Linked DNA regions of Homo sapiens: region 2 is linked to region 1. Evidence: fine-mapped expression QTL. A gene starts in region 1. The other region holds a variant in brackets. All regions are shown on one strand. Distances are from middle to middle. Region 1 holds the start of SLC45A3 (solute carrier family 45 member 3). Region 2 overlaps SLC60A1-AS1 (SLC60A1 antisense RNA 1).

What was found. PIP is the estimated chance that this variant, and not a neighbour inherited with it, causes the effect.
Region 2: its variant is the best candidate, but not a certain one, in a credible set for the expression of SLC45A3 in tibial artery (GTEx, PIP 0.88).

Annotation. Positions count from the first base shown.
Region 1 is chr1:205,678,001-205,682,510 of GRCh38, forward strand. SLC45A3 (solute carrier family 45 member 3) reads right to left here and starts at 2,509. Exons shown (of 5, transcript NM_033102.3): 1 at 2,394-2,509. LOC105371701 (a long non-coding RNA gene) reads left to right here and starts at 2,370. Exons shown (of 4, transcript XR_007066825.1): 1 at 2,370-2,499. RefSeq lists an enhancer at 295-464, a cis regulatory region at 380 and a silencer at 2,054-2,273.
Region 2 is chr1:205,564,025-205,568,266 of GRCh38, forward strand. All of the region lies in intron 1 of SLC60A1-AS1 (SLC60A1 antisense RNA 1), which reads right to left. It also overlaps the pseudogene RNU2-19P. Among named protein-coding and RNA genes, the nearest start is that of SLC60A1, 2.9 kb to the right of the region's middle. The variant T/C (reference allele first, on the strand shown) is at 2,481.

The DNA.
Region 1 (4,510 bases):
CTAGTGAAGCAGCCAATATAGAAACTTTCTTTCTGGCCGGGTGCGGTGGCTCACACCTGTAATCCCAGCACTTTGGGAGGCTGAGGCGGGTGGATCACCTGAGGTCAGGAGTTCAAGACAAGCCTGGCCAACATGGTAAAACCCTGTATCTACTAAAAATACAAAAATTAGCCAGGCATGGTGGTGGGTGCCTGTAATCCCAGCTACTTGGGAGGCTGAGGGAGGAGAATCACTTGAACCCAGGAGGCGGAGGCTGCAGTGAGCTGAGATCGTGACATTGCACTCCAGCCTGGGCAACAAGAGTGAAACTTCGTCTAAAAAAAGAAACTATCTTTCTGACAGTCTGGGTTTTTATCCATGTTGACTTATCAGGCTGTGACGTCCAGATGATAGTACTTAAAGTCTTCAAGTTAACTTTACTTTGAATCTTCAGACCAGCCCTGCCCAGGCTGAGAGCTCCAGTCTGGGTAAGGGGAGAGCTGGAGAGAGGCCTCCACTATCCCTCCACCACCCAGTGGCCTGGAATGGGCTCAGGAGACCACCAGGGATCACTGTCTACTCCTCCTCCTCCTTCAACGTTATTCAGGGAGCCAGGAGGGATGGGGAAGTTCACCACACACTCCATGAATACATAGGAAAACTCCCCCTAACACACACCCACTAAATTGGGGCCTGTCTGTCCACAGCTGTACATTCATCCACAGCTGTATTTTTATCTTCAAACTCATTCTGCTGACTCAAGCTGCATTTTCTGAGCACTTTCAGAACAACAGAGTCCTGGCTCCACGACAGGCCTGGTGGGAGGAGATAAGGGAGGAATGAGGGAATGGGACTGATCCAACAGAATGGCCTGCGACCTCAAATTGCGTCCCACTTATCCCCTACAATATGCTGCTCTATGGGTTTCCTCAGGCTTCCCGTCTAGCCTGGGCCTCCTGGGCCCTCCCACTCCCACCCCAATAGGCCAGCCTGTTTCCCAGGCCTCGGGCAGGTGAGTCTACACCAAGGCGGTCTCTGCTCTGAAAGGAGATCTGCTAAGTGCCTCAGGAAAGGTAGTCCGAAGCCCCTAGGACCTCAACCCCACCCCTGAGCAAAGGTTCCAGGACCCCAGCAAGGGTCACTGCGGGCCCTGGTCAACTGGCAATGCCCGGCTGCAGACTCCAGGGCAGCAAGACAGCAGCTGGGCTATTCTTAGTCCCTGCTCCACCGGGACCGGGTCTGTGTAACAGCTGAAGGGCGAGTCCTCACCAGGTACCCACCATGCCAAACCCCTCCCTACCCCCAACTCTGGCCCCTTGGAAAAAGAGGAAGCATAGGGAACACGCCCTGGAGTGGGGAAAAGCTGAGCAGGTCAAGAGTGTCTGTCAGGAAGATGGAGGCTGATTCAGAGGTCAAGGGCAAGAGCAACTCACAGGACTGCAGTGCCTGGGGGGAGCGGAAGACTACAGGAAGGCCTGACCCGCACTAGGGAGAAAGCATGCAGGTCCCTGGGGCTTTTCTAGCAAGCCTGCCTAGGCCCAGAGCTCTGAGAAGCTGCACGGGATGCCTAGGTACCACCACATCACACCTGTTTGCCGTTTGCAGAACTCTGTCCTTCCCCACCTGAGACCTGGGAGGCGAGGAGAAAACAGCGGCCTTTCTCTCCCCACAGAGGGGGAAACTGAGGCTGAAAAGGGGACACAGTAACACACACACACACACACACACACACACACACACACACACGGTCCAGTCCCAACTCTGTACCCAGAGCTCGCCCCAGTTCTAAGTCCAAGAGGGCTCAGTCCCCTTTCCCTGTCTTAATAACTCACTCTTCCTCAAGAAAGCCGGCCTGGGCCTGAGCACCCCGCGGCGCCGCGGCCGTCGGCTCCCGTCCCGGCTCCCCCAAGTCCCGGACTGTGCGCGCCGCAGTGACTCATCCTGCCCCTTTCCGGTGAAGCCCAGACAAGAGAAGAAAATAAACGCAACTTTCCAAAGAAAAGTCTGACACGGGAGGCTGCAACAGGAGCCAGCGGCCGGTCCGCCAGCCGTCGGCCCGGCCCGGTCCGGCCCGGCCCGGGGCTCCGGGGAGGGGCCGCTCCCCGCCCACACCGCCGCCCCGCCTGGGACAGCGCGGGCACCTCCTGCCTGCCCGCCCTCCGCGGAAGAAAGCACAGCTCAGCGGGGACCCGTGCAGGCGCCGGGCACTCGGCACCCGCCCCGGCAGAGCGTGTGGGACGCGCCCTCCTCTGGGATTCGCGCGGGGCTCGGCGCGCAGCGCCCCGGACGGCCACGGCGCAGCCCCATCCCGCGGGGCGCAAAACACGCGACAGCGCGGAGCTCGGCCGTGCACTGCTGCTCCCTTTCCCGCGCCGGGACCCTCACCCCTGGGAGAGGAGGGGGCGCGCTCCTACCTGGCCGAGGCGCGCGGCTGTCACCCGGAGCCAGCGCGTGCAGGCTGGTTCCGCCCCCCCTTCCTTGCCCCCCACGCGCGCCAGCCGGCGGCTTTTAAATCTCCAGGTTACTCCGCGGGGGGAGAGAGCATGCGCGCTGGGACTGCCAGGAGGGGGGCGGGGCGAGGCGGGACGGAGGTGGGGGGTGCTGCGAGGGGGGATAGAGGGGTGGGGCTGGTACCCAGGGGAAGAAAGCGGGAGGTCTCGAAGCTGGCTTTGTAGCCGCGCCGCGACGGGCAGCCCCCGCGTGGCTCCCAGACTGCCCTATCATTACCTAGGGCAGGGCACCGCCCCCTCTGTCGCTCGCCACCAAACATTTAGGTGAAAGCTACCCGGCTTCGCGGGGCACCTCCCCTCCCCTACTCGGAGCCAGTCTGCTGCGACCATTACCCAGGCGTGCCATTCTGGCCACCCGATCTCCAGGCAGAGCTGCTCCCTACCTGTCCAGGACCATCCCTTCAAAGGAGATGTCACATTCTCTCCGAATTACCCTTCTGCTCTTTGCTATTCTCCGACGCAGACAGAGCTAACTCAATCCCTCTTTCTGCGCTGAAAACCAAATTCCAATTTTTTTTCTTCTTAAGAGTGTGTACGGGGAAGAATGGATGATAAATTGCCAATGAAATGTTCTCTTTGTCAGCTGTTGAGCAAGGTCCGAACAGATACCTGTTCCAGAATGTCTTTGATGGAGTCCCAGGCTGGCCCTGGGGTTGGGGGTTGGGGGGCAGTTTTGTCTTTTTTTCCTCCATGGAGTTTTATTGGGTGGAGAGAAATCCAATTTAGTTGGATTGTTGACTTGAATACTACAAAGTCCCAGGAAGATGCCTTCGAAGGGGAAGACCTGGTTGGCCTTAGCCAACCAGGCACTGGGGCACTGGGTTCCAATGCTGGCCCTGTGTCAACAGCCGTATAACGTGGGCCAAGTCCCTTCCATGTTCTGGGCCTCTGTAAGAGGGGGTGAGCCAAATGATTTCTAAGGGCACCTTCCAGCTGAGAGGTAGAAGGAGGCAGAGAAGAAAGGGAGATAGAGAAGGGAGAGGAAATAGTGGCGCCCTGGTGGTAGTGGGGAACAGAGAGCAGGTGCCAGAGAGAGTTGAGAAGAGAAAAATCAAGAATCTACCTTCTGAGTCACTAAACAAGTTTAACTTGAAAACTGTCTCAGCGTTGCCTCCCTGGAGCAGACACACCTCTACCTGGGGACCCTCCTGGAGATGGCTTTCCAAAGTCTTTGGCATACCCTCTCGTGGCAAGCAGAGAGACTAGGGTGGAGTCCAGGGTCTCTGAGCTGGTGTCCCCTCTCCTCCAGGAAAGAGGTCAGGAGTCAGGGGAAATTTCAGGTCAGCTGGAAAATTACAGAGCCAGGAGAGAGTGGACGGTGGTATTTTGCAGGCTTGGGAAAGAACACTGGGAACATGAGAGAGTTGTCGCACCACAGACAAGTAAGAGCCCCCCTCTTCCTCCTGCCTCCCACCACTTCTTTCCAGGGGCCCTTGTGCTTTATGCCTTATGACAGGGGGATGAGGAAGGAGAGCTCAGGGGAGTGAGCACACAGCCTGGATCCCATGGTGATCCTGGGCCCTACCCAATCACCCCTTCCCAACTAAACCAGGTGGATGCACTGGCCAGGCCCCACCCAATACAGGGTACAGTAGGGCTCTCTGCTCTGAAAATCCCCCTCTTTCTGCTGATGTAGCCTCATGTTATAATAATAATAGTTGGCCAGGCGCAGTGGCTCACGCCTGTAATCCCAGCACTTTGGGAGGCCGAGGCGGGCGGATCACGAGGTCAGGAGATCAAGACCATCCTGGCTAACACGATGAACCCCTGCCTCTACTAAAAACACAAAAAAGTAGCCAGGCGTGGTGGCAGGCACCTGTGGTCCCAGCTACTCCGGAGGCTGAGACAGGAGAATGGCGCGAACCCGGGAGGCGGAGCTTGCAGTGAGCCGAGATGGTGCCACTGCACTCCAGCCTGGGCGACAGAACGAGACTCCGTCTCAAAATAATAATAATAATAATAATAATAGTTAACCATTACTAATTGTGCCAGGCACTGTTTCTAAATACTTTGTGTGTATT
Region 2 (4,242 bases), 110 kb before region 1:
AGGCAGGCTAGCACTAAGTAGCTCAACCGGATATTTGGTAAAGGAGGCTCTTTGTACACACACCCGCCTCTGCTGTATTTGCATTCATGTGCCTTAGGATGGCTGGGCCATCCAGGTATAGTCCTTGGCACCAAACTATCTGCCATCCGCCCCATGCCAACCTCAGACAGAGCCTTCCAATCCACCGCCACACTCTGGCCAGCAAAACAACCACACAGGGAGTGACAAGACAAAATCTGGAGATAGGGGAGGGGTGGCTTCATGACCCAGAATGGCCAGACTAACTGCAGGATGTGCTTAATGACCTTGAGCTGGAGACTTCACTCTACTGCTCCTGCCTGGCCTCTGCAGAATCTGGAAGCAGAGACCAGAAGGCCCTGGGGACAGAGGGCAGCCCCAGGTCACTAAGAGGATCCTGCTAAGCATGAAATCAAGCCCAAGTCCCAGTGACTCCCCACTAGGCTGGTGAGAATCAGGCCTCTTCTCTTTATATCTCATTTAAATATTTAAGGTTTTCAGTTCTAACAGAAACAGTAACAAAAACAAAATACACAACATGGGTTTATACACTAAGGAATTTCTGCAGCTGTAATGCATGTAAAAGGATAGTGGTAAGGGTATCTAACTCTTATTTCATTGTTCGTTTACTTTCTTCTGTGTGTTTCCATGACATAGATTACCTACAGATGGTCCAAGATCTGCAGGTGATTTATTGCTTCTCAACTTCCAGGTATAAAGCATAGGAGTTCAGCTGAGTGCAGTGGCTCACGCCTGTAATCCCAGCACTGTAGGAGGCTGAGATGGGCAGATCACCATGGGCCAACATGGTGAAACCCTGTCTGTACTAAAAATACAAAAATTAGCCAGGTGTGGTGGCGTGCACCTGTAATCCCAGCTACTTGGAAGGCTGAGGCAAGAGAATCACTTTAAACTGGGAGGCAGAGGTTGCAGTGAGCTGAGATTGCGCCATTGCACTCCAGCCTGGGTGACAGAGCTACATTCCATCTCAAATAATAATAATAATAATAATAATAATAATAATAATAATAATAAATGAATAAATAAAAGGCCGGGTGTGGTGGCTCACGCCTGTAATCCCAGCACTTTGGGAGGTCGAGGTGGGCAGATCATGAGGTCAGGAGATCGAGACCATCCTGGCTAACATAGTGAAACCCCGTCTCTACTAAAACTACAAAAAAAATTAGCCGAGCGTGGTGGTGGGTGCCTGTAGTCCCAGCTACTCGGCAGGCTGAGGCAAGAGAATGACGTGAACCCGGGAGGCGGAGCTTGCAGTGAGCCAAGATGATGCCACTGCACTCCAGCCTGGGCAAGAGAGCAAGACTCCGTCTCAAAAAAAAAAAAAAAACACAAGAGTTCAGTGTAGTATAAACACCTCTCACCAAGGAGTCAGAAATCCAGGCACCCAGTGATGAACCAATCCTGTGGTCCTTGCCTTGGAAGGGCGGCACTAAACAGAATCAGCACTAGGATAGTTTGGGAGCCCCAAGGAGGGAGCCTAGGAAGGTCAGAAAAAGGCTTCTGGAGAGCCAACCCTTGAGGCAATTAATAGATTTCAGGCTCCAAGAGCTTGAGAACCCTTTACTCCCACAGATCCTTTATTCCAATTAATGTAACCTTTCCATATTTGGGAGTCTCAGATCACTTTCCTTGGCTTGTGACGGTGGGGGATAATTCCCTTCTAATTTATAAGGGGGGAAATCAGAGAGTAGTTAAAGAAGGATCCAAGGTTTTGCCCTTCAAATTTAAGAATAACCACAAGGTGCCCAACTAAGAACAGACATGTGAATACACAGCACAAAGGAAAGACTGGATAGCGTCTGCCCTTGGGGAACTTGTAAGTGGGAGATAAGACATGTAAATGTAAAGCCAAAAGTAATTGTATAATTTTTGTGCAAACAATTCACCTCACCAGCTATTTGTCCAGGACTTGCTATCTGCAAGGCATTCTTTTATGTGAGGCACATGAGAAGGGGTGGAGTTAGAACACAGGTAAATATACTCCCAGCCCTTAGGAACTCATGATTTAACTGGCTCCCGTAAGGGGCTGGAGGAACAGTCCGTGGAATGTAATACCTGGCCTTGTGAAGATAGGGTAGCAGTACAGGAGTGGATGAGAGTCTTGCTGGAAATAAGAATTTAATAGAATTAATTCATCTGGGAAAGATGCCTAGAGGAGGTGGACAGTGTGTGATGCTGGAAAACAGAAGGGACAGAGAAAGGGATGAAGAAAGCAAAAATAAGCAAAACGTTTTCACATATAGACTTGGCTTTCAGACCCCACTCAAAAGTCACCTCTTCCATGAAGCCTTCCCAGGCAGAATTAGACACTTAGCTCTCCAGGCCCTCAAACCACCCCATTACAGAAGGTACCTCACTGCTGCACAGTTGGCCCCCTGTCTCTGTGGGTTCTGCATTTGTAAATTCAACCAACTGCAAATCGAAAATATTTGGGAAAAAAA[T/C]TCATCTGTACTGAACATGTACAGACTTTTTTCTTGTCGTTATTCCCTAAACAATACAGTATAACAACTATTTACATAGCATTTACAGTGTATTAGGTATTATAAGTAATCCAGAGATGATTTAAAGTATACAGGCCTATGGATGTAGGTTATATGCAAATACTATGCCATTTTATATCAGGGACTTGAGCACCTTCAGATATTGGTATCTATCGTTTCTCAGCCTTTTGGCAAGACCAAGTGTAGTATCTGTTCTTATCAGATATTGGTATCTGCAGGCACTCCTGGAACCAATCCCCCCACGGGATATGGGATATGGAGAGACAACTGTAACTTGTTTCCATATCTGCTTATCTCAACCAGAGGACCTTGTACAGTACCAGAACCCAATAGGTCTTTGACTATGAAGAGGCTGAGTACTGTATTCACGGTGGAATGCCTCCCTTTATTTTTACTTACTTTTTATTTTTACTTTTTACCATTTTAATCAAGTATAACTTACACACAAAAATGCACAAATCTTAAATCTACAGACCAATAAGTTTTTACATATATTTACACCTGTGTAACTACCACCTAGATCAAGCTTCAGAATGCTTCCAGCATCCCAGGCACTGGGGGCTACCTCATTGTGGCAGGGTCATTTGTTACTGTGGCTAGAGGAGCTGAGCCAGCAAGGTGCTGTAGTTGGGGAACGCCATTTAGGGAAATTATGGAAGGATTTCAGGTGTTTGGGCTAGAGAAGCAAAATCATTAGGGCAAGGTCATTTTGGGTGTGAAGGACTTACATGACAGAGCAATTAGATTTGTTCTGTGTGGGGCCGTGGGGAGCAGTTACAGGGCGAAGCATTTCAATTTTGCCTAAGACCATTTCTACAACCAGAGCTCATCCACACTGCAAGCAGAGCCCCTAGGAATATGCAAGGTCCCCAGCACTAGAGGTGTCAGTCAAGAACAGGACTGGCAAGCATTCAAAGGCAGTTATGGGGAGGGGATAGGGGACTCAATTGGAGGCTATTCCTTCCAATTCTGAGCTTCTATGGTTCCTGGAGTTCTGTGATAGTGGCAGAGAAGACTCAGTCAAAAACTTGTGGTTATGATTTGTTTGGTGTTTTTTCTTTTTTTTTCCCCCAGAGGGTAGCTTTTCAGTTTATTACAATTACTGTGCAGGCCCCCCATCATCACTATCGAATAAGTACTTGTCATTACCCACAGAGTGATGAGCCAGAGGGACCCTGGGGCTCCCCCTTCTCTGGGGCTCACTGTCCAAGAAGGGATAGGGCAGATGCAGGGGTGCGGCTATGAGATGGGACCAGTACCTGCAAGAGAAATTGGTTGCCCCACCTCATGCCAAGTTGTCTTGGGGACACCCGCCCACATACCTCCTCAGTCTTTTCAGCCCTGGTCCCCCTGGTGGGCCAGTGGAAATGATGTCATGGCTCCTGTCATTACCAGAAGACCTGGGCAGAGGGGACACCGCAGGGCCTTACTGTTCTGCCTCCAGGGGCCAGATCCTGGCTCCCTTAGGAGCGGGAACACACAGAACCCACCAGCCAGCCCGAGGCCACCTAATGAAGGGACAGCCTAGGTCAGCTGCAGGCTCCTCGAAGGACACCCAGTCTAGAGAATAATCAACCCCTACTCACTGCCAGGGATTTATCCATGGAAGAAAGAATTTTCCCCAGAACTCTTTTTAAATTTTTTTTTCTAGGAGATTATTTCAGAATTCCTCCCGGGGTTCCTCCAGGACGCGGCCCTTCCC